Homo sapiens: one gene and its partners. The protein of the gene in region 3 interacts with the protein of the main gene of each other region in a pairwise test. Each region holds a gene or a part of one and is shown on either strand. Other genes may lie near its edges. The genes, in order: BFSP2, LSM1, MCCD1 and P4HA3.

The links.
Region 1: the proteins of MCCD1 (region 3) and BFSP2 interact in binary tests that used the Homo sapiens proteins (3 or more experiments, as listed by UniProt).
Region 2: the proteins of MCCD1 (region 3) and LSM1 interact in binary tests that used the Homo sapiens proteins (3 or more experiments, as listed by UniProt).
Region 4: the proteins of MCCD1 (region 3) and P4HA3 interact in binary tests that used the Homo sapiens proteins (3 or more experiments, as listed by UniProt).

Annotation. Positions count from the first base shown.
Region 1 is NC_000003.12:133,471,978-133,477,523, reverse strand, and holds the end of BFSP2 (phakinin), read right to left. Parts: intron 5,180-5,546; coding exon 4,959-5,179; coding exon of another isoform or gene 4,955-4,958; intron 2,556-4,954; coding exon 2,552-2,555; 3' UTR 2,316-2,551; downstream 1-2,315.
Region 2 is NC_000008.11:38,161,389-38,167,936, forward strand, and holds the end of LSM1 (U6 snRNA-associated Sm-like protein LSm1), read right to left. Parts: intron 2,453-6,548; coding exon 2,282-2,452; 3' UTR 1,951-2,281; downstream 1-1,950. UniProt on the Homo sapiens protein: Plays a role in the degradation of histone mRNAs, the only eukaryotic mRNAs that are not polyadenylated. Probably also part of an LSm subunits-containing complex involved in the general process of mRNA degradation.
Region 3 is NC_000006.12:31,523,215-31,532,607, reverse strand, and holds MCCD1 (mitochondrial coiled-coil domain protein 1 precursor), read right to left. Parts: upstream 3,647-9,393; 5' UTR 3,594-3,646; coding exon 3,423-3,593; intron 2,862-3,422; coding exon 2,673-2,861; 3' UTR 2,376-2,672; downstream 1-2,375. Other genes in the region: spliceosome RNA helicase DDX39B, read left to right, coding at 1,203-1,312, 1,411-1,555, 1,682-1,829, 2,158-2,174.
Region 4 is NC_000011.10:74,273,587-74,283,479, forward strand, and holds part of P4HA3 (prolyl 4-hydroxylase subunit alpha-3 isoform 1 precursor), read right to left. Parts: intron 5,867-9,893; coding exon 5,802-5,866; intron 3,559-5,801; coding exon 3,399-3,558; intron 22-3,398; coding exon 1-21. UniProt on the Homo sapiens protein: Catalyzes the post-translational formation of 4-hydroxyproline in -Xaa-Pro-Gly- sequences in collagens and other proteins.

The DNA of each region.
Region 1 (5,546 bases), on a different chromosome or scaffold from region 3:
TAAGAAGTGTTACAGATGATCATGAAGGTAAGATTTAAGGATCTTGATATAAAAGAATGTTGAATCTGAAAGCCATGGATGCTCTAGCAATCCCATTGGGAGTTCACACAGCCCTTCAGAAGCTAGGCCAGAGGCCAGTGGAGTTGCCTGGTGTGGAAATAGAGCTCGGTTGTGTTTCAGGAGGTGTCCATTGGGAGCCCTGCTCTGGTCTGCTCCAGAACAAATGCTCTGTCCTTGACACCAATACAAGCAGCAGCCTCCCCTGCCACCTGTCAGTGAACCACTGCCAAAGCGTAATTGTACTGGGATGTTGTGAGAGGAAGCCTGATTTAAACGAGGCCCTGGCAGAGTTGGGGGGCCAGCAGTGCCTTCTCATACCTGTTAATGAAGCCTCATTAGAAACAGCAAGAGCCTGTGCTGGGAACTGGAAGCACCAGTCTGCCACGGCTCTCCCTGCCAAAGGGTGATTAACTGAATGATTTACGGCAGCTGCTCTTTGAGATGATGGTGCGGAGGAGACCAAGTGTGTGCAGCCCTGCACAGCATGCTGTCTGGTGGAAACTCAGGAGGATGCGCAGATACATTCTCCCGTCTTTCCAGTGGCTGAAACGACTTCCAGGTTCTAAAAACTGCATGGCCATTCGGTCATAGAAGTACCTCCTTTTGATGGCTGACCTTTTGGGGACTGTCACCTTTGAAGCCTCCAGCTACATTTAGGTTAGGAATTTAGGTCTTGCCTGAGGGACCAAAAATTAATAGTAACAAGAAAGACAGAAAAGAAACAGACGTCAGTGTCTTGTGCATCCAACATAGCAAGGCCAGCCACCCACTTTGTTTTCTGGCAAGACTCTTGTACCCAGGCGGTTCAATTATGGGCAGCCCCATAGTGTGCAGCTATGGAGATGGATACTTTGCTAAAATGTAGTTTTAGGGTGTCTTGCCTATTTCCATGTCTCAAACAACAAACTGACCTATGTCAAGGGGCTATGCACATTGTAAATAGTGGTTCTGCTCATGTGATCTTTAATACAATTCCTTTGCTCTTGCAGGCCAAAAAGGAAAACCAGTTGTAGCAATTCCAACCAGGATACCATATATCTTGCCTTTTATTTATTTATTTTTTTTGTGTGATAGTCTTGCTCTGTTGCCCAGGCTGGAGTGCAGTGGCACAATCTCGGCTCACTGCAACCTCCGCCTCCTGGGTTCAAACGATTCTTCTGCCTCAGCCCCCTGAGTAGCTGGGACTACAGGCGCCCGCCACCAAGCCTGGCTAACGTCTGTATTTTTAGTAGAGACGGGGTTTCACCATATTCGCCAGGCTGGTCTCGAACTCCTGACCTTGTGATCTGCCCACCTTGGCCTCCCAAAGTGCTGGGATTACAGGCATGAGCCACCGCGCCTGGCCACCTTGCTTCTCTTATAAGCAATCCTTAAGGATAAATAAATGTTCTTTTCTTTGTGTGGGCCTTGGTTATTTGGACCCTCGGGTATGGGGGTTTTCAAATGTACCAGTGTTGGATACATCCCCCTGTCTGGATTAGCAGCTCACAAACACAAAGACTCAGCTTGGATATTTTGGTCTGTAATTCTGTGTGATAGGTAGACCAACAGAAGTTTGAGGGAGGAATGACAAAATTAAAGTTGGGCTTTTTTTTTTTTTTTTTTTCCTTTCAGTTTTAGAGACACTGAGAACCTGTGGTAGGACACAGGTGGTGGTTTCAATTTTAATCAGAAGGCAAGAGAGTCTTGCCTGGGTAGGTGGCAGATGCATGAACTATATTTGGCTGGCTTAGGCCCTGAGAGAACTGGAGAAAGGACCCTGGAAGAAAATTCTGAGGCTGTAAGTGGGGTGAGCAACCACAGTGTAATTAATCCCCCACTTAGATTGAATGGGTTTAGATTGGGCTTAGATTGAAGTTCCCTTTTAACTGATTGAGAGATGCTCTGCCAATAGCAAGTGAAATGTGTGTGTCTGCACATGAATATGCATGCAGAGTATATTAAAGAGGTCTGAATACTCCACGATGCCTGTAATTATGAAACATGTGATAAAGCACCACACTAATCCCCTCTCGAGCAAGAGTGTTGTTTTTTGTCCCAGACTGCGTCAATCCTGCATGCCATGAGCACTGCTTTTGCCTCCGCAGCACTTTTATGTTGACAAACCCAAGAGCAGGTGACCCTAGGGAGGCAGATGGCGTCACACTCAAGGGAATCCTTCCAGAAGCCTTCAAGCATAGCTCTGTGAGCAAAGGCCAGACAGACAAAGTGATATCCATCTCGACCCTATAGTGAGTTGAACAAGGTGGGCAAACTGGACGCTGCGCACAAAGCATTTATTTGAAGGAGGACAAGGGAGATTGCTCAAGCTACAGACTACTCAGATTAAAGCAGAAGGATCCTCTCCACTTCCAGGAAGCTTTTCAGCTCAAGCTGAATTAACCAGGGAATCCAGCAGGGACTGGAGCTCAGGAGAAAGCTCCTCAAGCAACTTCTTGGGTCAGCTGTTGAGGAAGGGTGTTTTCTTCATGAAAAAGAGGAAGTTTCTCCATCAGCTGAAAGGAAACACATAGGAGTCAGAAGCAATGGGTGAGGAAAATCGGTCATTCTATCACAATAGGATTACGAGAAAGGGGGCCATCTCATGAAAGAATCTGGCCTTTGGAACAAGATAGTTTTGGGTTTTAAATAATTACTCCATGGTTATTTGCTGTGAGACCTTGGGCCATGACTTAAGCTCTCTGAGGCTTTGTTTCCTGTCTCTAAAACACGGATCATGAGGTTGTCTTGGCAGGGTTTGGAGGATAAACAAAAATAATCAAGAGTCAGGTCTGCCTTGGCACTCACTAAATGAACGTAGCACATAGATTCTTAAGAAGTAACTCGGCCTAACTCACTGCTCTTGCTGTTTGTTTAAATTGACTTTGTGTGTTTATACAGATGCTCATAGGCATCTGAAAAAAAAATACTTTGTTAGGAACATCTGGCTTTTATAATCAACAAAAATCAATTCAATAAAAGACAGTTGGAGAGGAGCTGGATGACATATTTTCCATTTGAAAGCAGGGCGTGGTTAGGTCGCTTCCTTGAGGCTCTCCCGCCTTCTGAATAAAGAGAGGTTACACAGTTGGAGAGAGCAGGAGACCTGGGCTCCCATCCCAGTGCTGTCTCCGCCTCCTGTGTGATCATGCGCAAATCTTTTTCCATTCTGGGTCTTTGTGTTCTCTCTTGAATCAGGAGGGGTTGGATGATACAATCACTAAGCTGTCTCTATTCCTTATTCAACATATGTCAGACAAGGAGTCTTGGAGGGAAATAAGAAGGCATAGAACTATGATACAAAATAAGGGCCTGGGTTTCTGGAAAGAGTTGGCAAGGAAGCTAAGGCCCAAGGCTGATGTATATGCCTCTGGAATCCTTATCTATTAAAAAAAGAGTGAGTGCAAGTGTGTGTGTGTAATTATGGCAGACTAACTCAACTCCTAGTCCCAACCCCTTGCCTGCCTCCACTATGGAGTCTGGAAAAGCTAAAGAGTTGCTTTCTTAGCCTCCCTTGCAGATGGGTATGGCCAGTATAAGCAGGTTCTGGCCAATGAGATATAAGGGACAGTCCACTGCAAGCCTCAAAATGTCTTTCCTTCACTGATTAAAGGAGAGGATCATTCAAGAAAAAGCCTTTTGACTTTTCATTTTGTTCTGTACTAAGAAAAATTCTTCTGCCTTGGGATCCTGTTGACCTGTGACCTTACCCCCAACCCTGTGCTCTCTGAAACATGTGCTGTGTCCACTCAGGGTTAAATGGATTAAGGGCGGTGCAAGATGTGCTTTGTTAAACAGATGCTTGAAGGCAGCATGCTCGTTAAGAGTCATCACCACTCCCTAATCTCAAGTACCCAGGGACACAAACACTGCGGAAGGCCGCAGGGTCCTCTGCCTAGGAAAACCAGAGACCTTTGTTCACTTGTTTATCTGCTGACCTTCCCTCCACTATTGTCCTATGACCCTGCCAAATCCCCCTCTGCGAGAAACACCCAAGAATGATCAATAAAAAAAAAGAAAAAGCCTTTTTTTTTTTTTTTTTTTTTGCTGCTGCCTCTTCTCTCCCACTTCCGGCCAGGAATGAGGATGTGATGTTTGGATCTGTGGCTGGCATATGGTAACCATGGGGTGACAAAGATAAAGACAAAAAGCCAATGTTGTCATGGTATGTTAGAAAGATGAAAAGAGCTTGAGTCCTTAATGAAATCTTTGAGCAGCCTAGATCACCTGTTTCTGGGACTCTTAAATAAATGATTTACACATCTTTGCTACTCAGAGTGTAGTCTGTGGAGCAGCAGTATAGTCATCACTTGGGAGCTTGTTAGAAAGGAAGACTCTCAGACCCCACCCCAGACGTACTGAAGCAGAATCTGCATTTAAAAAAGATGCCCAGCTGGGGTGTCACGGCTCACACCTGTAACCCCAGCTATTCTGGAGGCTTAGGTGAGAGGATCACTTGAGCCCAGGGGTTTGAGTCGAGACCAGCCTGGGCAACATACCGAGACGAGACCCTGTATCCAAAAAAAAAAAAAAGATGCGCAGGGTTTTGAGTGCACATTAGTTTCAGGAGCACTGGTTTATAGCCTCATTAATTAGGTTCTATTACAAGCAACTGAAACATTCCTAACAGCTATTATGTACGTCCTAGGTATACACATGTATGTGAATGTATGTGTGTATATATACATACATAAATATGCATACATATAGAAAATGTATTAGTATGTGAATATATTATATATATTATTTGTATGTGAATAGGAAAGGAAGGACACAGCTAGGCTGTGGGAATGGGTGCCTATGTGAGAGGAAGTCTGGGGTGATTTCTTCTTAAATACTTCTACAGTGTTTGGAAAATAATTATTTTTAAAGCCATGAATATGCATCTCTTGGATAATTGACGCGGAAGCGAGGCTTACCCGCTCTCCTCCCTGTCCAGCAGGGCGTGGTAGGACGCCACGTCCTTCTGCAGCTGGCACTTGCGGGCCAGCAGATGCGCGCGCTCCTGTTGCTGCTGCTCCGCCTCCGCTCGGATTTCCCTGAGCTCCGCCTCCAGCCGGCCGACCACAGCGCCCAGGTTCTGGAGCTCCATGTCATGCCAGTGCTTGGCATCGTGCAAGGTGTTCTCCAGGCCTCGTTTCTACAAAAGAGCGAACCCGGTCCAAACCCGAGGACAACAGGCCGGGCCCTTGAAGAGGGAGGTGTGCAGAGCAGTGGCAGGGGCTGGTGGTAGCCTGGACTATTCCCCTCGTGGCAGGGACCTTGCCAGTTATGGAGACTGATGGGGGTTATTCTTAGTGGCTCCGTGGGAAAAATAAGGAATCCCACTCAGGTCAGACTGTGGATTAGTCTGATTGATCTTTTTGATGGGAGAGAGGGTGAGGGAGGCGAAAAAGAGAAGGAGAGAGGGAGGGAGAAAAGAAAGGGGGTGTGAGGAGAGAGAGGAGCGGGGCAAGAGGGATAGGGATTGAGAGAGACAAATGAGAGGCAGCTTGCAGGCGTTTCTT
Region 2 (6,548 bases), on a different chromosome or scaffold from region 3:
GCTGAACTTCAGAGTATCTTACTGTAGTCACACGTTTTTCAAAAGTTGGTATTTCTTCTCTTTATGTGGGTAGTTAATAATACATTCTATTAAACAGTAAGATGGGCAAAACATTAGATAAGCCATTAAGTGCAATAGTTTCCTCATAAGTTACCTACTATAAAATCAGCCCAATGATGAACAGTTCAGAAGTCAAATGGTTTGTAGGCCTTTTGGGCAGTTTTAAAAACCCCTGAGCTCATAAAATGTTAATACTATAAAATAATTCACACACATACAGGCCAAGCGTGGTGGCTCATGCCTGTAATCCCAGCACTTTGGGAGGCCGAGGCCAGAGGATCACTTGAGGTCAGGAGTTCGGGAACCCACCACGCCAACATGGTGAAACCCCGTCTCTACTAAAAGTACAAAAATTAAAGAGGGGTGTGGTGGTACGTGCCTATAATCTCAGCTACTCGGGGAACCTGGGATGTGCAGGTTGCAGCGAGCCAAGATCGCACCTCTGCACTTCAGCCTGGGCGACAGAGCAAGACTCTGTCTCAAAGAAAAAAAAAATAATAATAATAAATCACACACATACAAATTAGATATAAAATTTATGAAAATAACATTTTTGCTTAACAGAATATAAAAAGGAACTACCTGGAATAATCAGTTAAAATTACTGAGAATCAGAGGATGACTTACTCAAGCCTAATCTGCCAATAATTGCCAATTTCACACGGTATCTCCTAACTCCTAGTTGAGCCCACTGTCTACTAAACCATGATTCCTTTATTTATTTATTTAGAGACAGAGTCTCACTCTGTCGCCCAGGATGGACTACAGTGGTGCAATCTCAGCTCACTGCAACCTCTGCCTCCCGGGTTCAAGCAATTCTCCTGCCTCAGCCTCCCGAGTAGCTGGGATCACAGGGATGCACCACCATGCTAATTTTTATATTTTTAGTAGACGGGGTTTCACCATGTTGGCCAGACTGGCCTTGAACTCCTGACCTCAGGTGAACCACCTGCCTCTGCCTCCCAAAGTGCTGGGATTACAGGTGTAAGCCACTGCACCCGGCCCATGCTTCCTTCTTGAAGTACAAATCTGTTAAGCTTTTCATGCAATCCCTACTCTTCGACAGTCACACAAAGTGCCATCACTATGGGCTTTCAGTCACTACAATACCATTTATGTTCCTTTTTGATGAGAACGTTAAGATACTCAAGACTCAATACAAAGGACTAGAACACCTAATTAAATTAGCAGAAAACCTGGAGAACAAGCCACTGTAAGAACATGTTGGGTCTCGTGGGGACTTAGTTTGGAATAGCCATGGGCGAAGCAGGAGCAAGAGCAACCATGATGTCGTTTCTCAAACATGAGTCTTCTGCAGTAACCAGTAACTGGGAAACAGCTGAAAGCTCCCTCCTCACGCCTGAGCGTTTATATTTTTTTTTTTTTTTTTTTGAGACGGAGTTTCGCTCATTGCCCAGGCTGGAGTGCAATGGTGCAATCTTGGCTCTCCGCAACCTCTGCCTTCCAGGTTCAAGTGATTCTCCTGCCTCAGCCTCTCAAGTAGCTGGGATTACAGCATGCGCCACCACGCCCTGGTAATTTTGTATTTTTAGTAGAGACAGGGTTTCTCCATGTTGGTCAGGATGGTCTTCAACTCCCGACCTCAGGTGATCTACCCGCCTCGGCATCCCAAAGTGCTGGGATTACAGGCATGAGCCACCGCCCCTGCCGAACATTTGTATTTCTTAACAGATACAAACATGGAAACAGGAGAGGACCCCTGAGATGACTGGAATAAAAATATTCCTTCCTAAGTAGCCAGCTACTTGAAACTGTGACTGAAGGGGGAAATCCCAGTATGTGGACTGCTTATACCTTTGAGAGCAGAAACTTAATTAATCTATTAATCTATTCATTACAGGTAACTCAAACTTGGAAATAACATGACACTTTTGAGATTCATATTTTATTTACAAGTAAATGAAGACTGTCCCTGTAAACTCTAATTTGGGATATGAAGAACAATATAAAGAAGTAGTTGCTGGTGCCACAGTGATGTGTGAAGGAGTCTATGCCACTGTTTCTTTAAACAGTGATTTTGTTATTAAAAAAAAAACCCACCTACACGATTTCTTCATGTTGCATATGTAAAATAATTAAAAATAAAAGTGACTTTTCAAAACTCTACAGTCTGTGATCAAATGCGTGAGGTGGCCAGGATGTCACTTTCACTCAGTGACAGCCCCTACTCTTCAAGAGCCAACAGCCTCTGGGCAAAAGATTAGTACTCATCAAGAGTATCTGCTCGAGGAATGGAAAGACCTCGGTCCTTCAGGGCCTGCACTTTCAACTTCTCTGCTTCCAGCTTGGTCTGCTGTTCCACCCTTTGTTCTTCTAGAATTTCTTCAATGGATACTTGCTGGAGGGGTGTGTCACTCTCCTTTTCCAAGTCCTACAAAAGAGACAGGTTTGAAAACTTCACCTGAAGACCAAGAATAGAAAGCACAGATCTCAAGGCAAATGGATTCCTCTATCAGGCTCAGATTATTTTTCATAACTGTGACAGGAACTGAAATATCCTTCTCCTAGGGACCGGTAAGTTTTTCAAAGAAATGCCTGACAACACTACTATAGGATACATACTTACAATGAGGTTAATAGTGATCAGTATATGTATATATTTTTCAAGATGGAGTCTCTCTGTCACCCAGGCTGAAGTGCAGTGGCGCAATCTGAGCTCACTGCAACCTCTACCTCCTGGGTTCAAGCGATTATCCTGCCTCAGCCTCCTGAGTAGCTGTGATTACAGGCACGTGCCACCACGCCTGGCTAATTTTTGTATTTTAAGTAGAGACAGGGTTTCACCACGTTGGTCAGGCTGGTCTCGAAACCTGACCTCATGATCTGCCTGCCTTGGCCTCTCAAAGTGCTGGGATTATAGGCAGTAATAAGTATTTGTATAACAGAGCTTTATGTGATCCAAAATCCCATATTAGTCAGGATTAATTTTCTATTAGTCCACGATTAATTTCCTTAAAAAAAAAAATTAGGGCTGCTTATAGACAGCTATCTCCCCCACTGCAGAGAATCCAAGAGGGAGGTTATTGAGGCAATGTGGCCTTAGACTTTTTTTTTTTTTTAATTATTTTAAGGACGGGTGGAGTGGCTCACAGTCGTAATCCCAGCACTTTGGGAGGCTGAGGTGGGAGGATCACTTGGGCCTAGGAGTTCGAGACCAGCCTGGGCAACACAGTGAGACCCTAACTAACTCCACCAAAAAACAAAACAAAAAAAAGCTGGTGTGGTGGTGTTCACCTACAGTTCCAGCTACTCAGGAGGCTGAGGTGGAAGGACTGCTTGAGCCTGGGAGGTTGAAGTTCAAGGCTGCAGTGAGCCATGAATGTGTCACTGCACTCCAGCCTCTGCAACAGCAAGACCGTCTCAAAAAAAGTAAAAAGACAAAAATAAAAAGGGATCCTCTTGCCTTTACCTCCTACGTAGCTGGGGCTACAGGTGTGCGCCACCGTACCAGCTCTGTAGTCTAGATCTAAACTGTAACAAGACTCTTTTTCCCTTTACGGCAACAAGTCTTCTAGGGAGAACCTCGGCAGACCATTTAGGTTACTAAACCAATTTGGTCCCAATATTTTTCTCCACTATTTAAAAAATTGCTGCTTAGGTTGGGCATGGTGGCTCACGCTTGTAATCCCAGCACACTGGGAAGCCGAGGCGGGCAGATCACTTGAGGCCAGGAGTTCGAGACCAGCCTGGCCAACATGGCAAAACCCCCGTCTCTACTAAAAATACAAAAAAAATTAGCTGGGCGTGGTGGCAGGTGCCTGTAATCCCAGCTACTTGGGAGGCTGAGGCAGGAGAAGCACTTGAACCTGGGAGGCGGAGGTTGCAGTGAGCGGAGATCACGCCATTGCACTCTAGCCTGGGTGACAAGAGTAAAACTCCATCTCAAAAAAAAACAAAAAATTGTTGCCTAATAAAAAATTCCTTATTTAAAAAATACACACTCATCGTAGATAATATGGAAAATAGACAAACAAGGAAAATTTAAAAATTATCCATAATTCCAGTATGGAGGATTAACATTTTGATAATATCCCTACAATTTTTCTACATATATACTGACTTAAAAAAAATAAACAACCCAGCCAGGTGTGGTGGCTCACACTTGTAATCCCAGCTACTCGGGAAGCTGAGGCACGAGAATCACTTGAATCCAGGAGGCAGAGGTTGCAGTGAGCCAAGATCACACCACTGCACTCTAGCCTGGGCGACAGAGTAAGACTCTGTCTCAAAAGGAAAAAAAAAAAAAAGTAAAAAATAAAAAATTAGCTGGGCGTGGTAACGTGTACCTATAGTCCCAGCTACTCATGAGGCTGAGGGGGGAGGATCACTTGAGCCCAGGAGTTTGAGGCTGCAGTGAGCTGTGATCACACCACTGCAGTCAGCCTAGATAACAAAGTGAGACGCTGCCTCAAAAACAAACCCCTCCCAAAAACCCACAATGCAAATACTGACTTTAATTCGTTTTTTCACTTAAATGTGGCATAGTATGCTTAATATTTTTATTTTTGAATGTTTTATAAACATTTTTCATTAATTATTTTTAAAGATATAGAAGACTTCATGAATTTGCGTGTCATCCTTAAGCAGGGGCCGTGCTAATCTTCTCTGTGTTGTTCCAATTTTAGTAGATGTGCTGCCAATGTGAGCACATTTTTCATTTTTTTAGAGACAGGATCTTGCTCTGTTGCCCAGGGTGGAGTGCAGTGGCACAATCACAGCTCACCATGATCTGAAACTCTTGGGCTGAAGTGATCCTCCTGCCTCAGCCTCCTAAGTAGCTGGAACTACAGGCATGTGCCACCACATCTGGCATTAAATCTTTTTTCTTTTTGTAGAGATGGGGTCTTGCTATGTTGCCCAGGCTGGTCTCAAACTTCTGGCCTCAAGCATCCTCTTGCCTTGGCCTCCCAAAGTGTGAGCCACTGTGCCTGGCCCTTATAAACATTTGCTAACCAATGTCATAATGCAGAAGAACCTTGCTAAAAAAGTATCTCACTGTCCATAGATTCAGTTTATTGTCCTTAAAATGAATGTACAGGTATTATTTGGTGTTTTTGTAAGATGGAAAGCCTATACAAAGTATTCCTGTTTCTTACCCTCCTCTATGACTTTCAATGATAAAAGTTTGGGACGGTACTGACACACTTCTCCAGATGCTCTGCCCTGCATACTATTACCACATGCTGCCAAGGTCTCAGAACTCACAGGCAGTGGCATTATCAGTCAGAGAGGACTCTCACCACAGAAGTTACAATGAAAGCCACACAAATTACATAAGCAAGCCCTGCTCTAGGTCCAAAGTTAACAGCACCCAGCAAAGTATATATTACCACCTGCCCTCCCAACCCATGAGTAGCAGCTAAAGAGAGCACAGTGTTCTCGGCCTAATGCACTGCCTCTTGGGCTTTTCAGTATGTGACTTGCTAAGCAATTCATGCTGCTGTTGCTGCTTCTTCCCAACAGTCTTATTACTTAATGCTGTGTCATCATCATCGTCCTTGAGGCAGAATTCAGGGATTTCTTAACCAATATAGTGTTTACAGAAACTGATTTCTATGTATGAATTCCTCTGGGGTTGGTACATAATTTCTCCTGATTGCTGATTCACATAACAATGCAGGCATTCCTGGAACCAAGTTTCTGTAGTGGTACCCCTGTAAAACTTCTGCAGCATCCAAACCATAACATATTTTTTTAAAAAAGGGAACTTTTCCTCACAAAAGGGATCCAAGGAAACAATTAAACTTCAAGAACAAACACGTTCACCTCTTTCTCTGCACAAACACACACATCTACTTAGATGTAACTTTGTGCCAATGTAACCAGTATAAAAAGCATGTCTGCTATGTTTACTACTATAAAACAGAAGCATATCTGTGAATATTTTCTTGAGAAAGGGTCTTGCTCTGTTACCCAGGTTGGAGTGCAGTGGTACAATCATGGCTCACTGTAGCCTCGACCTCCCTGAGCTCAGGTGAATCTCCCACCTCAGCCTCCCAAGTAGCTGGGACTGGTGATGTGCACCATCACCCCTGGCTAATTTTTGTATTTTTTTGTAAAGACAGGGTTTGGCCATGTTGCCCAGGCTGGTCTCTTGCAGCTTAAGCGATCTGCCTGCCTCGGCCTCCCAAAGTACTGGGATTACAGACGTGAGCCACTGCACCCACCCCAGTATTTTAACTTAAGTTTTTTCCTCTGATACGTTGCCTCTTCAAAATTAAATTCAGAAAAGTATTTTTAAAAATCATCTATAACCCCACCATGCAGAGATGGGTCAGCTCCCCTATATACTGGCAGTATCAAGCACAGTGGCATGTACCTATAGTCCCGGCTACTTGGGAGGCTGAGACAGGAGGATTGCCTAAGCCTAGGAGTTTGAATCTAGCCTGGGCAACATAGTGAGACCCCATCTCTGGAAGAAAAAAAATACTGGCAGACTACTTTACAGTCATGTAGTGTCTCCCCAT
Region 3 (9,393 bases):
TTCTATGGCTGGCACGGGTATGTCCTCAATAACCTCAAGGAAAATAAACTTCAAAAATTAAGATCCTTGGCCAGGCACGGTGGCTTATGTGTGTAATCCCAGCACTTGGGGAGGCTGAGGGAGGTGGATCACTTGAGTCCAGGAGTTTGAGACCAGTCGGGGCAACATGGCGAAACTTCATCACTACCAAAGAAGAAAAAAATTAGCCAGGTGTGGTGGTGTATGCCTGTAGTCCCAGATACTCTGGTGGCTGAGGTGAGAGGATAGCTTGAGCCCAGGAAATTGAGGCTGCAGTGAACTATGATTGCACTACTGTGCTCCAGCTTGGGCAACAGAGTGAGATCTTGTCTCCAAAAGTCCTTGAAGGATTTTAGGAAGTTGTTAAAAGTCTTGAAACGATGTTTGGGGGCATGTTAGGGTTCTTGAATGTTTAATTCCTCTAATAACTGCTTATTCAAGAGAAGCATTTCTGACTGGGTGCAGGGCAGTGGCTCATGCCCATAATCCCAGTACTTTGGGAGGCTGAGGCAGGAGCATTGCTTGAGCCCAGGACTTCAAGACCAGCCTGGGTAACATAGGGAGACGCCCGTCTCTACAAATAGTAAAAATAAAAAATAAAAAAAGTAGCTGGGCGTGGTGGTGTGCACCTGTGGTCCCAGCTGCTTGGGATGCTGAGGTGGAAGGATCTCTTAAACCCAGGAGGGTGGAGGCTGCAGTGACTTGCGATTGCACCACTGCACTCCAGTCTGGGGGACAGAGTGAGACCCCATCTCAAAAAAGTGTTTAATTAATATACTTGTGAGTGGTCTATTTGCATTTAAAACTGCTTTCTAGAATTAGGATAGCTCCCTTAGGTTTAATGTTTTGGTGAGCAGGAATATCAGTTACCCCTCCAGATCTTAATTCTAGTTTTTTATCACTTTTTCATGAGGTGATCTCATCCTCATCTCCTAGCATGTCTGGCAATTTTGATTTCTGAACTCTGTGCTACCTCAGAGGCCAGCTTCCTTAGGGAAAAATCAGTGCTGAAGTAAAGTTATATTTCCTTTTCTGCTCTAAATATATAGTGGGGGAATAAGAGAAATGAAGAGGAATTCCTGAGAACGTAATTACTAGAAACTCCCCTCTCCCACGTAATGTCTCTCACACACCATGGACCCCTATTCCCCCAATTTGCGACCCCCCACCCCACCCCACAACAGGTGGTGATCTTTGTGAAGTCTGTGCAGCGGTGCATTGCCTTGGCCCAGCTACTAGTGGAGCAGAACTTCCCAGCCATTGCCATCCACCGTGGGATGCCCCAGGAGGAGAGGTGAGCTGAAGATGGGAAAGATATTTTGTGTCCTTGGGAGAAAAAGACAGTTGAGAGAAGGGAATCTCAACATGTTTTAAATTTCCTTTCTCACAAAGGCTTTCTCGGTATCAGCAGTTTAAAGATTTTCAACGACGAATTCTTGTGGCTACCAACCTATTTGGCCGAGGCATGGACATCGAGCGGGTGAACATTGCTTTTAATTATGACATGCCTGAGGATTCTGACACCTACCTGCATCGGGTAAACCTCACAGGCTGAAAAAATCCCACTCTCCCATTCCCTTGTTTTCTGTTTGTACATCTTCATTCCTGCCTCTGGGTCTCTTTCCTCTTCGGTCTTCCAGTGCTACCCTCTGTCTCCCTCCAGGTGGCCAGAGCAGGCCGGTTTGGCACCAAGGGCTTGGCTATCACATTTGTGTCCGATGAGAATGATGCCAAGATCCTCAATGATGTGCAGGATCGCTTTGAGGTCAATATTAGTGAGCTGCCTGATGAGATAGACATCTCCTCCTACAGTGAGTACTGATCTCATGAAACCCTTTAGGTCCTCCCTGTTCCTTAGTGTGTTTGTCCGAAATCCCATCACATAGGTCATGGGCATCTGATGCATAATGGACACTTGACTGGTTCATGCCCCCTGGTCTTTGATGCTGTGTTGGGATGTTTTTCTGACCTTTATGTGGGGTGTCTTGTCTTCTCTCATCATATTACATCCCTTCCCTCACCCCCACGTCCGTCCTCTGAACCCAGGCAGTACACCAGTGTCTGCATGTGTGCCGTGTGTTCCTGCCTCACTTTCCCCTTTTCATGCCTTATTCTGACCATGCTACGTTTTCTTCTCAGTTGAACAGACACGGTAGAAGACTCGCCCATTTTGGAATGTGACCGTCTGTCCTTCAGGAGAGGACACCAGGGTGGGGGTGAAGGAGACACTACTGCCCCCACCCCTGACAGCCCCCACCCCATGGCTTCCATCTTTTGCATCACCACCACTCCTGAACCCCCATTTCTGATTTGTCAGAATTTTTTTTTAACAAAACTAAAAATGAAACACATGTGTCTGTGGTATCTATAAGTGCTTCGTCCCTTTATTGTATTTGGGGTGAGGTTATTTTAGGGCATGGTCCAGGGTGAATTCCTATAAGGCCTGGGTGCCCTGCCTGCTGTGAGATCAAAGGGGAATGGGACTAAGACTGCAGAGCCCTGGCTCCCCCACTGCCTGCCAATTGCCTGCGCTTTGTGGTCTCTTCCACTTTCTCTGGCCTGGGAAGACGCTGGGGTGTTTATGATCCCAAGGCTCCTGGTGGGTGGTGCGTGTATTTTCAGCGCCGGAGGGTGCTGTGGGCACTGGGGGAAACTTAGGCGCCTCCTCCAAGGCTCTCTTGGTGCCTCCTCATCTGTTCCTTCAGCTTCTGGATCTTGAGCACCAGGGCTTGGGCCTCCCAGGCTCCCTCCTGCCCTTCAAGGAGGGCCTGGTACAGCTCCAGCTGCTGCTCCAACAACTCTTCAGCTCGGGCCAGCTCAGCTGTGCGGTGGGTCCCAGGGCCCTGGTCAGGGAATTAAGGGAGGGAGCATCAGCCAGGGCAGGGGGCTGAGGCCCTGGGAAGCTTTGTTGCAGGCTGTGGCTGGAAGTGAGAAATTCCACCTTCCCTATTCGTTTTTGAACCGGTCGTTTAAGGACACCTGTACTGAGAAGGCCAGGTAGCTTCCTGTCTTGGGCATAGGCCTCTGGGTGGTAGTAGGGGGAGCAAATAGAGTTCCCTGGCCCAGGGGCTGTAACTGGCTTCCTTGAACAAGGATATGGGGTCACTGGAAAGAGGATCAGCTGCTCCTCCCCGCTAAGAAATAATTAACTGTTAGGTGAGGGGGAATAGATCCTGTTCAAGGACTTTGTGGACTGTGCTGTTGTGGGTGGGGGTGGGGTGAGGGAAGGGAACCCTGAGGTCTGGGCTGGGGGAGGTGGGGAGAGGAGTTGGTAGCTGAACTAAGAAAAGAGCTGCAGGGGTAGGCATGGTGTGGGGTGGTGCAGGGTGGGATTGAGGGTTTTTTTTTCCCACACCCCAGTGTAAATTCTCACACCCTCTGTTCCTACCTGTGGTGCCACTTACCCTGGGAGGGGACGTCATCTTCCCATTTCCTCTGGAGCTGGTCTGCTCTTCCATGCTTGCTTTGGGGTTTTGGGAGCAGCACCCATGGGAGCCCTGGGGTGCCAAGGACCAGGAGGGCAGAAGGAGGCGAAGGAAATGGTACCGAGAGAGCCAGGGCAGAGGGAGGACCATGGCGGGTGACCTGGCAGGGAGCTGTGTGAGCTGTCCAACGGCCACCAGGAACTGGTTCGCTCCAGGACTTGGCCTCACTTGAGTGCCTGGCCCTGCCCAGGCCCCAGCCCCCAGCCCTGCCCCTGCCCCTGCCCCACTCTGCCCCACGTCTCTCCCAGCCTGGCCCCAGACAGAGTCCAGGAACAACTCCTGTTCCTGATGTGAAAAATGTCCCTGCCAGTTTAGGCAGAACTTGCTTTAGAGCACTGGTGCCCAGCCTACCACAGGTCTGTGATTTTTTTTTTTTGATCTAGTGTTTATTAGGTATGAATTTTACAAACATTAGCGGTAGCTGTGGAGCTGGAGAGTATTGCACCTTCTCCAAGCTGCATGGCGAGAACCACCAATAGTGTGGTAGAACTTACAGCCCTTTCCAAGGCCGTGGCTCTCTTGGCCTGCAGATAGCCTACGCATCTCCCTATGCTTGTTGTGGACCACTGGGTGTCAGGTTTCCTTCTGATAGTGTTATGGAATGGATCAACTAGGATAGCCTCAAAAACTTTGTATGTGGAATCTTTAACCAGCCCAGTGAGAATTCAGGACTCAGAGCCCCACAGTGGCATCCAGCTTGCTCTTCTGTAACAGACTGAAGGCTTTAAGCAAACTAGCTGGTTAACACCATGATAGACAGGCTTGCTGTTAAGTTGCCTTCTTAGGAACTAGATTTTCAGCCACCGTGGCGCTTATATGTAACATAACCTTGCTTGGCTGTAGCCCAGTAGCGTGCTTTATTGGGCTGGGTGGGGCGGGGATCCCTGTGGAGAGCAGAGAGCTGGTGGTACTGCCAGCAGCGGACCCTCAGAAGAAAGCTCATGACATCAGACTGCTTCTTCCATAGCTTCTGGATGTACTTGTATGCACCATCTTGGTTTACCCAGTGGCTGCTGCCAGACAGAAAGGAAAGGCTACCACAGGTCTTGTGTCTTTTTTTTTTTTTTTTTTTTTTTGAGACGGAGTCTCGCTCTGTTGCCCAGGCTGGAGTGCAGTGGCGCAATCTGGGCTCACTGCAAGCTCTGCCTCCCGGGTTCACGCCATTCTCCTGCCTCACCCTCCCGAGGAGCTGGGACTACAGGTGCTCGCCACTACGCCCGGCTAATTTTTTGTATTTTTAGTGGAGACGGGGTTTCACCGTGTTAGCCAGGGTGGTCTCGATCTCCTGACCTCATGATCCGCCCGTCTTGGCCTCCCAAAGTGCTGGGATTACAGGCGTGAGCCACCGCACCCGGCATTTCTTAACACTGTCTTTTCTCACTTCACTCTGCAAGGTAGGAATTACCTCACTGGTTTGCACCTGAGGAAACTGGCTCAGATGGTTTCATTCAGCATTCACTGGGGAAGTGTCTGTTGGGGGCAGCTCTAGGCTGGATGTGCTCGAAGGTCCATAGCTGGTTGTTGGTAGGGCCTGGAGGGTTCATGTCTAGGTCCACCTGACTTGAAAGCTCATCCTGACCTTGCTTAAGTGCTGATTCCCCTTTGCAGATGTACCTTTTATTGTGCTTCCCTTTATTGCTCTTTGCAGATGCTGTTTTTTATTTAGAGATTGGAGGCTTGTGGCAACCCTGTGTCAAGCACATCAAACAGGTCTATTGGTGCTATTTTCCCAACAGCAGGCAGACATCATGTCTCCATGTCACGCTGTGGAATTCTCAAAATGTTTCAAGCGTTTTCATTATTATACTTGTTACAGTGACCTGTAATCAGTTACTGAAGTTAACTATTGTGATTGTTTTGGGACACCATGAGCGATGCTCATATAAGACAGCAAACTTAATGGAAAAATGTGTGTGTTGTGACTGCTTCACCAACTGGCCATTCTCCCGACTCTGCTTTCCAGGCCTCCCTATTCCCTGAGGCACAACAATATTGAAAGGAATAATCCATGCGGCAAATGGCAAACATCATTGTCTTATTTTAAGAAGTTGTCAAAGCAGCCTTCAGCAGCCATGCCCCTGATCCATGGAGGCAAGACCCTCCCCCAGCAAAAAGATCAGGATTAGCTGAAGCCTCATATGATGGTTAGCATTTGTTTAGCAATTAAGTATTTTAAAATTAAAGTATATGGCCAGATACAGTGGCTCACGCCTGTAATCCCAGCACTTTGGGAGGCCGAGGTGGGTGGATCACTTGAGGTCAGGAGTTCAAGATTAGCCTGGCCAACATGGTGAAACCTCATCTCTACTAAAAATACAAAAATTAGCTGGGCATGGTGATGGGCACCTGTAGTCCCAGCTACTTGGGAGGCTGAGCAGGAGAATGGCTTGAACTCAGGAGGCGGAGGTTGCAGTGAGCCAAAATCGTGGCACTGCACTCCAGCCTGGGTGACAGAGCGAGACTCCATTAAGTATATACACAGTTTTTTGTACACAATGCTACTGTACACTTAACAGACTACAATATAGTACAAACATAACTTTTATGCACAATAGGAAACTAAAAAGTTTGTGTGACTCACTTTGTTGCTATGGTCTGGAAACAAATCTTCAGTATCTCCGAGGTATGCCTGTCATTTCCCTTTCCCTCTTCTTGCTGGCCCAGAATGACCTTGTTTCTTGCCCCTGTCTAGCCCTGCATGCTGTAGGGGTTTGCCTTCTCTGGTAGGTCTGGGCACTTTGTATCCCTTGTAACCTTGGCTCCTGGGATATGACACTGGTACAACTGGCCTCAAGTTCTGTTGGACTAGTGAGCCTCCCCCAACACCTCCTGAAGTAGAACCAAAGGCCTGTGCACACACCGTGCATGTGTGAGTCTGCATAGAGATGTCAGCTTCCTGCAGGGTGTTCTGAAGGGATGTCCTGTTGTGACTGGACTGTGACATAGCCACAGGCCCAGAGGCAGGAGTGGCTCAGAAGGGAGTGGCTGGTCCCAATTTTGATCATCTAGGAACAGGAAGGTCCTTAGAAAACCATGCCCCAGAAGGCAGGATTGCTGGAGAGTGGACAGCTGCTAGCCAGCTCGCTATCTGGATATCACTCTGCATTGGGAGGGAAGATGGCCTCTGCCATGGTGTAAGAGTCCAGGAACCAGGCAGTGAGGACTTCCCAGCGGTCAGTGCTTCTCACACTTGCGGGCCAAAGCACCTTTAGATGAGGCCAAAGACTTTACGTTCCTCATTAGCTGACTTTTTCCCACTTAAGTGGAAAAAGAACCCAGAACCTTTGTAAAAGTTTAAGGGGAGAAGGGCTTTCCCTCTTGTATCTTGGTGATAAGGTTATGCATGACTCATACTTTAATTGCAATGTGTACACAGCTAAAGTCTTAATTATTAGAATATAAGAGCCCCAAACTACTGTTATTATAGATAAGCGAAACTATGCAGTATATGGTTAAACAAACCACAACTAATTAACATTGAAAGTTGGCCGGGCGCAGTGGCTCATGCTTGTAATCCCGGCACTTTGGGAGGCCGAGGCAGGGGGATCGCTTAAGGTCAGGAGTTCAAGACTAGCCTGGCGAACATGATGAAACCCCGTCTCTACTAAAAATACAAAAAATTAGCTAAGCGTGGTGGTAGCCACCTGTAATCCCAGCTACTTGTGAGGCTGAGGCAGGAGAATTGCTTGAACCTGGGAGGCGGAGGTTGCAGTGAGCTGAGATTGTGCCACTGCACTCCAGCCTGGGCGACAGAGCAAGACTCCGTCTCTCAAAAAAAAAAAAAAAAAAAAAAAAAAAAAAAAAAAAAGAAAAGAAAAAAAATTAACTACATTTTTGGGAGGTGGACAGAGCAATGCTCTGTCACCCAGGCTGGAGTGCAATGGCACAATCTCTGCTTGCTGGAACCTCCGCTTGCCGGGTTCAAGCAATTCTTATGCCTCTGCCTCCCAAGAAGCTGGGATTACAGACGTGTGCCACTATGCCGAGCTAATTTTTGTATTTTTAGTACAGACAGGGTTTCACCATGTTGGCCAGGCTGGTCTTGAACACCTGGCCTCAAGTGATCCGACTGCCTCAGCCTCCCAGAGTGCTGGGATTACAGGTGTGAACCACCGTGCCTGGCCCTCTATCTGTTAATTTAAAAGATTAGCAGCCATTTAGAAAAAACAACAAATGAGACTTTTGCAAGACAATCTAAATGATACACTAATAACAATCCTTTGGGAAAGTGACATTTCAACCATGTGAGTTTCTGCTTTAGGTTATGAACTCCAAAATGGACTAAATGGACTAACCCCCAATAATTTATAGTAGCTAGTTTTTTTTTTTTTTCACAGTAGGTAATTCTAAACCATAAATAAAATAGAATCTGAATTTTGGCTTTGTTCACCTGTGGGAACTTAATTAAGAAAGCACTGGCCTTTGGGTCGGTTCAAATATAGTGGATGAGGCCAGGCGCAGTGGCTCACACCTGTAATCTCAGCACTTTGGGAGGCCGAGGCGGGCGGATCATGAGGTCAAGAGATCGAGACCATCCTGGCCAACATGGTGAAACCCCGTCTCTACTAAAAATACAAAAATTAGCCGGGCATGGTGGTGCACGCCTGTAGTCCCAGCCACTCGGGAGGCTGAGGCAGGAGAATCACTTGAACCCGGGAGCCAGAGGTTACAGTGAGCTGAGATCATGCCACTGCACTCCAGCCTGGCGACAGAGCGAGACTCTTGTCTCAAAAAACAAAAAACAAAACCAAAAAGAAAGAAAACCAAATATAGTGGATAATCGTGGATCTCATAATTGTAGAAATGAAGGAATTAAGCTAAAAAAATACATAAACCAGAATACCTAGTGCTAAAGTGGAATGTCCCCACCAAAACTCATGTTGACATTTAATTGCTATCCTAATGGTATTAAGATGCAAGACTTTTTTTTTTTCTTTTTTTGAGATGGAGTTTCGCTCTTGTTGCCCAGGCTGGAGTGCAATGGCACAATCTCAGCTCACTGCAACCTCCGCCTCCCATGTTCAAGTGATTCTCCTGTCTCAGCCTCCTGAGTAGTTGGAATTACAGGCACATGCCACCACGCCCAGCTAATTTTTGTATTTTTAGTAGAGACGGGGTTTCATCATATTGGTCAGGCTGGTCTTGAACTCCTGACCTCAGGTGATCCACCTGCCTTGGCCTCCCAAAGTGCTGGGATTACAGGCATGAGCCACCGTGCCCAGCCGATGTGGGACCTTTCAGGGTTGATTAGATTGAATAGATTAATGCCATTGTATGGCATGATAGAAATCAGTTCAGCCTCTTTGCCCTTCCACCTCTCACTATGGGATGATACTGCAGCCAGGCCCTCATAAGATGCCAGTGTCATGCTCTTGGACTTCTCAGCCTCCAGCTCTGTGGGAAAAACATTTATTGTCTTTATAAATTACCCAGTCTGTGCTGGGTGTGGTGGCTCAAGCCTGTAATCCCAGCACTTTGGGAGGCCAAGGTGGGTGGAAGGCTTGAGCCCAGGAGTTTGAGACCAGCCTGGGCAACATGGCAAAACCCATCTCTACAAAAAAACACAAAAATTAGCTGGTGTGGTCGTGCGGGTCTGTGGTCCCAGTTATTTAGGAGGCTGAGGTGGGAGGATCACTTGAGTCTGGGAGGTGGAGGTTGCAGTGAGTCGAGATCATGCCACTGCACTCCAGTCTGAGCGACAGAGAGAGACCCTGTCTGAAAAAACAACAAAATAAATTACCCAGTCTGTAGTATTCTGTTATAGCGGCAGGAAACGGACTAAGACACATAGATTATGTTACTGTGTTTATTTATTTATTGTTGTTTTTGTTATTCCTGACTCTTAATATAGAGTCTTAATCAGATGAGCATTCTGGCCTGGTCTCCGCAG
Region 4 (9,893 bases), on a different chromosome or scaffold from region 3:
GTAGAGGGGGCTGCTTGGTGACTGAGAAAAAAAAAAACAGAACATATTATTTTATGCAGATGGCACCAGAGGGACAGGCAGGATTCCACTATTAATACAAATAGAAGTAAAATGGGGGCATCAAAGATGGGATATAGTTCTGATATACACCTACTGGAGTATGTGCCCGTCTTTGCTGGCAGGTACTCAATACAATTTTTTTTTTTACTAATTTATTAGATACTTATATAAAAGAATTGTCTACTACCAAACAGAACTACTTGTCAGTAGTGAAAGTACTATATGAGGGGTTAATTGCACCTTTGAGTTCTCTGTGAAATATAGAAATTAATATATAAAATATTACAGACAATTATTCTGTAGAAATACCAAATCATAAGGCCAGAGTTCCAATTACTTGCTGAAGAGACATACTCTTTTTTTTTTGTCATGGAACAGTTTGAGATATGATTTATATTCCATAAAATTCACCCCTTGTAAGCCTACTGTTCAATGAGTTTTCCCACAATTGAAGTTTAGAACACAGAACACTTCCATCTGCTGAAAAGCTCCTTCATGCCAGTTAGGAGTCAATCCCTGCTCTCACCTCCAACCTCAGGCAACCCACTTATCTGCTTTCTCTCTATAGCATTCCATTGTGCAGATATATCAAAATTTGTTTATCCGTTCACCTGTTGACAGACATCTGGGCTGTTTCCAATTCTTGGTTTTTTTTTTGTTTTTTTTTTTTTGTTTTTGAGATGGAGTCTCACTCTGTTGCCCAGGCTGGAGTGCAGTGGCGTGATCTCAGCTCACTGCAACCTCTGCCTCCCAGGTTCATGCCATTCTCCTGCCTCAGCCTCCCAAGTAGCTGGGACTACAGGCGCCTGCCACCATGCCCAGCTAATTTTTTTTTTTTTTGTATTTTTAGTAGAGACGGGGTTTCACTGTGTTAGCCAGGATGGTCTCGATCTTCTGACCTCGTGATCCGCCTGCCTTGGCCTCCCAAAGTGCTGGGATTACAGGCATGAGCCACCGTGCCCAGCCCCAATTCTTGGTTATTACAAATAAAGCTACTATAAACTTTTCTGTACAAATGTTTGTAGAGACATATTTTCTTTTTCTTTTGGGTAATATACATAGGTGTGAAATGGCTGGATCATAAGTAGGTGAATCTTAAACTTTTTAAGAAACCATCAAACTTTTTTCCAAAGTGTCTGTATAATTTTGCATTCCCACTAGCAGTGTATGAGAGCTTCAGTTCCTCCACATCCTCACCACCACTTGGTATAATCTTATTTTATTGTAGCCATCATAAGAGAGTGCAGTGCTATCTCATTGTGGTTTTAATTTGCATTTCCCTAATGATGTTGAGCATCTTTCCATATGTTTCTTAGCCATTCATTTATCCTTTTTGGAGAGGTGCCTACTCAAATAACTTTCTGTCCATTAAAAAAAATTGAATTATCTTATTACTGAGTTATAAAAGTTCTATAGATATTTTGGATACAAGTTCTTTACCAAATATATGATTTGCAAATATTTTCTCCTAGTTGGTGGCTTGTCTTTTCCTTTTCTAATGATGTTTTTTGAAAAGCAAAGAATTTTAATTTGATAAGGTCCAATTTATCAGTTGTTTTCTTCTTTTATGGATCATACTTTGGTGTCATATCTAAGAAATCTTTGCCTAACCTGTGGTCACAAAAATTTTCTCTTATGTTTTCTTCTAGAAGTTTTATAGTTTTACATTTACATCTATGACCCATTTTGTGTTAATTTTCATATATGGTGTAAGGTAAGGGTGTAAAGTCATTATTATTTTGCAGATAGATATTAAATTGTTCCAATACTGTCTATTGAAAAGATTGTATTTTCTTCATTGAATTTCCTTGGCACCTTTGTCAAAACCAATTGATCATAAATGTGTTGGTTTGTTTCTGGACTCTGTTCTGTTCCATTGACATATGTGTCTCTCCTTACACTGGTACCACACTGCCTTGATTCCTGTAGCTCTATATTAAGTTTTGAGATCAGATAGTGTATGTCCTCCAATTTGTTCTTCTTTTTCAAAATTGTTTTGGCTGCTCTAGGTTTTTTGCATTTCCATATACATTTTAGGATCAGCATGCTAATTTCTACAAAAATAAACCTCCTGGAATTTTTATAAAGCTGGGGTTCAATTTATAGATCAATTTTGGGGAGGTCATTTTAATCCTCAAAAATCACTACTGGGTATCTACCCAAAGGAAAATAAAGTATTATATTACAGAAAAAACACCTGCACCCAGATATTTATTGCAGCACTATTCACAACAGCAAAGTCATGGAACCAACCTAAATGTCCATCGATGGTTGATTTGATAAAGAAAATAAGGTATATATACATAACAGAATACTATCCAGCCATAAAAAGAATGAAATAATTTCCTCTGCAGCAACATGGATGGAGCTGGAGGCCATTATCCTAAGTGAACTAACTCAAAAGCAGAAGATAAGATATTGCATGTCCTCACTTATAAGTGGGGGCTAAACAATGGGTACACATGGACATAAAGATGGAGGTAACAAACACTGGAAACTGCAAAATGGGGGAGGGTGAAAGGGGAGTGAGAGTTCAAAAATTACGTGTCAGGTAAAACATTCAATAGTTGGGTGATGGGTACACTAGAAGTGTGGTCCCCACCATTACACATGCAATACCCATATAACAAGTATGGCTGGGTGCAGTGGCTCACTCCTGTAATGTCAGCACTTTGGGAGACTGAGGTGGGAGGATCGCTTGAGCCCAGGAGCTCAAGACAAGCCTGGGCAACATAGCAGGACCTTGTCTCTACAAAAAAAATTTTTTTAAATTAGCCAGGTGTAGTCCTAGAGCTACTTGGGAGGCTGAGATGGGGGGATCACTTAGCCCAGGAGTTCAAGACTGCAGTGAGCTATGATGGTGCCACTACACTGCAGCCTGGGCAACAGAGCAAGATGCTGCCTATAAAGAAAAAAATAAATACATAAATAAATACGTAAATAAAAAACAAGCACATGTACCCCATGAATCTAAAATTTTAAAAAAATTATTTGCTATTATCAGCAAAGATGGCCAGTTGAGATCATGAGGCTAGAAGAGTTACTGGAGGAAGGACAATCCTCACTAGGAAGTCCCTGAGTGGAGCAGTCCGATGATTCCATGACAAGCCACATTCTTCCCTCACCAGCAAATTTTAGAAGGGAGATGGTGGCAGACAAGAAAATGAGTCAGCAACAATATGCTTGAAACTAAGGCTTTCAGATATTTCTGGAAAAAGAACCTTTGTTCTAAGATTTCACTTAGTATTCCCTGAGAGCCTACAAGAGCTCTGCCTCAGAGAAATAAATAATGCCCTGGCTCCCTACCCCAGGGGATTGGTCATTGACTCCACCATTACCGTAGCATGGTCAAAGTGAGGCTCATAGTGTCCTCCGATGCCATAGTTCACCACCTGCAGATACTCTGCATAGGGAGGCCGGACATCAAGGCCTGTGAGGGCAGCAATGCGGTGGTTGAGGGTCACCAGTTTTGGGTCAACAGTGTCCTTCAGCCAGGCACTAAAACACACCACAGATTGAAGCATCAATGATCTGTTGCCCGAAATGACTAAATGACGTCTCTGAATGAATGAATAAACAAATGAATTATGTTAATTGCCAGAAGGAAGGATGGAAGGAAGGAGGAAAGAGAGGGAGGGAAGACAGACATAAATGCCTAATTACCTATGCATTCCTCATGTTAAGTCTGCCCAGTCCACTTTGTTCTCTACCTCAACAAACTCACAGCATTGAGATACAAAGAGGAATAAGACAAAACCCCTGCCTTCAAAGCTGCTATGGTGTAGAGACATCTGAACAGAGGGACCCGGGTACAGTGGGAAAAGCTTGTGATTTAGAGAAATGTGACGAGTCCCTGATCCTCTGTGATCCTAAGTCAAGTATTTAACCATTAACCTCTCTAAGGGTCAGTGTGTTGTCTATAAAATTGGGATGATAATAATATCTACTTCACAGACTTATAAAGATTGTGAGAGGCAATGCTTATGAAGACACTTTGTGAACTATACATTAGTGTTACTTTTAAACACAGGAAAATCTCTGCTCTACTGCAAGACAAGCCAGGATAGGGCAAAGGCCAAACAGCAGAGTTCAGTCTCTTTTCCTGAATGTCTTGTTGAGGTTCTGACAAAGTGGCAACTTTGGAATCAGAATTTACGTCCCTGGGAAGTGAGAAAGTGCTCCCTAAAGCCAGTGGGTCTCCTGGGGAGACGATAAGGCTCTGAGGGAACAGCCTTGGCATGATATGGAAGACCATTTCTTTGCTCTTTGCTTTTGATGGATTAGTGTGTTCATTCTTTCAAATAGAGTGCAAGCAGAGTGCTATGCCACATGCTCTTAGGTTACAGAGATCCCCAAGACAGAGCTATTGCCTTCTAAGAGCTCATGGATTATGGGGGAAAGGACAAACACAAATATAACTAAGAACAAAGTAAGGTACAGTGAAAAATTGAGAAACAGACTTTAAAGTGCTGGGAAGCACAGAGGAAGGAGAAGTTCATTCCAGTGGGGCACTCAGGTAAGATAGTGACATTTAAGCCAAATTTTGAAGAGTGCATAAAATTTCAATAGATGGAAAAGATGTAGGAGTATTCCAGCCTGAAGAAACAGCATAAGCACAGACATGGAGGTGTGGCAATAAATTATGAATAAGGAGATAGGAAGAAGTAACGGGAGATACAGCTGGAGAAGCAGGCTCAGGGCATGACATAGAAAACTGAAAACACTGTGATATGGAATCTGGACTTTATGGATAATGGGTACTCAGTGAAGGTGTGTGAGCAGGAAAATGATTTGGCAATTAGAAGTTCCCTGGTGACCTTTGGGAGACCAGCTCCAGCGAAGTTGTGAGGACAGAACCAAAAGTCAAAGAGTTGAAGAGTGATGCAAGTGGAGAAAGAAAGTAGTTTCTTGTTCGGAAAAGGGAAGAAAATACCACCTGCTCCCCTGGAAGCAATTAACCCAAGGCTGAATTTTCTCTCTGACACTAGAATATCAGAAAGGTTAGAAAAAGCAATGAGGCTGAGGTCATAGGGACCTTCCATAGGTTAGAGAATAACTACTAATATGAAAGGCCCTTAATGTACCAGACCAAGTAAGTTAAGCCAAATGATTCTGAATCACAGCTTTCATCACTCACCTCCCTTCCCAGACAGCACAAACTGATCTCCATCCTGAGGTCTGGCCTCCCCCCAAGGATGCTGACGTCACTGTCTCACATGTCTTTGGTGGATGTAAGTAAAGGGCTGCAGTGGGGGGTGGGCAGGGCTGGAGGGGTGGGATAAAGCTGGGCTCTCACAGCTGAATCTGCTCCTCTACAGAAGCCATCAGGGCCAGAGTCTATTTGTCCTTCTGGTCTCATTCTTGGCAAGTCATGCTTTCAATATGAGTCAGGAGGTGGGAATGGAATCTTGTAAAGTTAAATTACAAATGTGGACAGGACTGTATCTTCTGGAAAAGCAATCCTGTTTAGGAGAACAACTATAGACATATTTTTTGGTTTAGGGCAGAGGAGCTCTTCCAAGTCTCTCTCGAATGGCCTTCTAGTTAAACCCTCAGATGATCTAACAACCTGGGAAAGGGGAGTGGAAACTTCACCCTCTTAAAAAGAATGTACAGCTATAAACGTGAACTAGGGATTCTCCACCTCTGGAGGTCCCTGAATGGCTGTTGCTGACTGGCAGTCAGCTATGCTACGGCCCGAGGGTGGGCAGCAGGTATGACCAAGGAAGGGCCCTTCTTACCTTTTGCTGATGCGGTACTCCACTTGTAACTGCTTCTCCCCTGATGCCACCACTGACCTCTGTAGCTGGTGGGAAGAATGTAAGACAAAGTCCAAGTGGTTATGATGCAAAAGGAAAGTTTTGTCACTTCCACAGACATATTTCTCTCTTAAGCATCAACATAACAGATGCCAGTTCCTCCTTAATTAGAGGACATTTTGCATGTGGGACTAATTTAGTGACAGCTATCAATCCTGAAAATAAAAGATCATAAGTGACCAAAGATCGTAGAGTTGAAAATAACCTTTAACACTGTGTCTAGTCGACAGTAAGCACTCAATAAAAGTTTGCTGAGTTGAATTTAACTGTTATTTGAATCCCTTTTGTATCTGTAAGACTGTGAGTTAGGTAAGAACAGGGGCTATTTCTCATTCGTCTTTGTTTCCCAGGGTCAGGCACAGGGCCTGACCTATGGTAAGCACTTCGTAAGTGTTTGTCGAATTAAATGAACACCTCCAGCAACAGGAAACTCTCTACACTCAGAGGCAGCCTGCTCCTTTTGAATATTCTAATGAAAGCCTTTCCTTACAGAGAATCAGAGTCTGTTTTTGCTACAACCACTTTTTTAAAAAATTGATATATAATAGTTACAGATGTTGAGGGTACTTGTGAGATTTTCATAGCTGCAACTGCCTTGATTATGAAAAGACAACAACAGTTTTGATAACACTAGTTTAACTAAATGCCTCTCTTTTGTTCTGAATGTCTAGGTATAGCATTTAAATTATTATTATTATTATCTTTAGAGACAGGGTCTTGCTCTGTTGCCCAGGCTGGAGTGCACTAGTACGATCATAGCTCACTACAGCCTCCAACTCCTAGACTCAAGCAATCCTCCCACCTCAGCCTCCCAAATAGCTGGGACCATAGGCACATGCCACCAAACCTGGCTAATTTAAAAAAAAAATGTTTTTGTAGATACGGGGTCTTGTTTTGTTGCCCAGGCTGGTCTTGAACTTCTGGTCTCAAGGGATCCTCCCACCTCGGCCTCCCAAAGTGCTGGGATTACAGGAATGAGCCACCATACCGGGCCTAAATTATTTTTAAATAAAGTGTCTCCTAATTGCAAAATCCAGGGACAGAAAGAGAAATATTATTTATTTATATGAGGGTAAACATGTCTACTTCTGCCTCTGTCATCAGAATGTCAGCTCATGAGGGCAAGGACTTGGCCTTTTTTCAGTGCTGTATCCCCAGGGTCCATTCAACACCTGGTGGTGGAGTAGGTGCTTAGTACTGGTTAAATAAACAAATGAATGAAATAGGGCACTGCCCTTAAAGGTACTCACAGGGCTCAGACCCAGCTCTGGTGCTTCACAGGCAGGCAGAGCAGTGCCTGGGGCAATGAGCTACACAGACAGAAGCTCTTTCCCTTCTCTGAAGCTTCCATAATGTCATTGTCCCTCCTGCTAAACCAGATAGACAGTCTTGGAAAAGCCTCTTCCTTTCCTTGGGCCTGTTTCCCCATCTAAATTCTGCACAGCAAAAGAAACTACCATCAGAGTGAACAGGCAACCTACAAAATGGGAGAAAATTTTTGCAACCTACTCATCTGACAAAGGGCTAATATCCAGAATCTACAATGAACTCAAACAAATTTACAAGAAAAAAACAACCCCATCAAAAAGTGGGCGAAGGACATGAACAGACACTTCTCAAAAGAAGACATTTATGCAGCCAAAAAACACATGAAAAAATGCTCACCATTACTGGCCATCAGAGAAATGCAAATCAAAACCACAATGAGTTACCATCTCACACCAGTTAGAATGGCAATCATTAAAAAGTCAGGAAACAACAGGTGCTGGAGAGGATGTGGAGAAATAGGAACACTTTTACACTGTTGGTGGGACTGTAAACTAGTTCAACCATTGTGGAAGTCAGTGTGGCAATTCCTCAGGGATCTAGAACTAGAAATACCATTTGACCCAGCCATCCCATTACTGGGTATATACCCAAAGGACTACAAATCATGCTGCTATAAAGACACATGCACACGTATGTTTATTGCGGCATTATTCACAATAGCAAAGACTTGGAACCAACCTAAATGTCCAACAATGATAGACTGGATTAAGAAAATGTGGCACATATACACCATGGAATACTATGCAGCCATAAAAAATGATGAGTTCATGTCCTTTGTAGGGACATGGATGAAATTGGAAATCATCATTCTCAGTAAGCTATCACAAGAACAAAAAACCAAACACCACATATTCTCACTCATAGGTGGGAATTGAACAATGAGATCACATGGACACAGGAAGGGGAACATCATACTCTGGGGACTGTTGTGGGGTGGAGGGAGGTGGGAGGGATAGCATTGGGAGATATACCTAATGCTAGATGACGAGTTAGTGGGTGCAGCGCACCAGCATGGCACATGTATACGTATGTAACTAACCTGCACAATGTGCACATGTACCCTAAAACTTAAAGTATAATAATAATAATAATAATAATAATAATAAAAGTTTGGGACAAAAAAATAAAAAATAAATAAAATGCAGCTTATGAACAACATGTGCTTGCGAGTTCCTCTCACATGTGGCTCTACAATCTTAGGAAGCAGGAAATCAGAAGGGGATTGATGTTGCCTCCATCCATTGTCCCTGGTGTCCTGTCCTGAGCCATTTGTAGAGGAGAAACTCATAGAAGAGAGATGCTCCCTTCTGTTCTTTTAGGGCAAAATCAATGGTTTAAAAAAAAAAAACAAAAAAAAACCCTAAGGAATCCCCCCCATCCCAAATTAAGGAGTCACCTTATATTTATTTCCTGTAACAATCATTAATTGTCTACCTACCAGTCACTCGTTTTTTGGAACAAATATTTATTGGTTGTTCTCTGTGCTAAGCACTGTGCTAGGCACTGGAAAAACAATGTTAATCCAGACAATGTCCCTGCCCCTAAGACATCTAATGGGGCCATAATAGGCAAGTATAGAATGCCATGGCAATAGAAAGAGGGACACATAGCCCATTCTTATGAGGGACAGGGAGTCTTTCCAGGATGTCCACAAGACACACTGGAATCATACAGGTGAGAAGTCAAGGGCAGTTCGTTCCAGGCAGACAGAAGAGTGTGCAGCTGGAGCGTCAAGTGCCGGGGGAGATGTGGTAGAAGGGGTTGGCAGCAGCCAGGCCATGGAGACTTGTAAGCACTCAAAGGCAAAAGTGACCCAGTGAAGAGTTTCAGCAAGGGCTTGAGTGGTCAGACCTGACCTTTTAAAGATTTACTCTGGCAGCAATGGGAAGAACATGGGGCAAGGCATTTGCAGAAAGATGATGCCTGCTAGTTTACAGTCTGACTGGGGAGACAGGATGCTGACCCAGGAAACTGTCAGTGATGTCAAACAACACATAAATGGCAGAATACATTTAAAAATTAAGTACCAAACAACCAGTGAGAAAAAGCTTAGAGTTCAGAGGAGGAATAGGTAATTGTATATGGCTCCAAAAAGTGCTCTGAAAAAGAACCAAAGGAGGCCAGAATGATCAGGGCTAGCGGGCCCAGCGAAGGTGCAGGGCTTCAACTGAGTCTTCAAAGATGGGCAGGATGTGGTGAGAGAGAGAAGTGATGAGTGAGTGTGCTTTGGGAAAGGGACAGTGACTAGGAAGCAGAGATATTCAACACAAGCCACTGAGGCATCTGTCTTCAGTTCCCATGGGGAAGCCACTACCATGTCAGTCCAGGGCTGATTCCTGGGAGAGCCACAGACCAGACAGGCATCAGCAGCCCCAGAGAGACACTTCTAGGGGAAGGAAGTGTGCCAAGATCTGTGCATGCTAAATGGACGACATGGCCATGAACATTTAAATCAACGTCTCTGGGTGGGTCACTTCTCCCGTTACCATGGCAACAGGGCTGTTATAAGGAAAAAGCAGCTGCTGGCCAAAAGCTACTACTGCTGGCTCACTGCAAAGCTGAACCTGTTTGCTCCAATTCACCAGTGGGGCTTAATTATCTCAAAAAGCTTCTGTGCAAAGATTCTAGACTTTCCTGGAGGGGCTTTTAGATGAAATGATGATTGCCCCTCTTCTCCCTCCAATC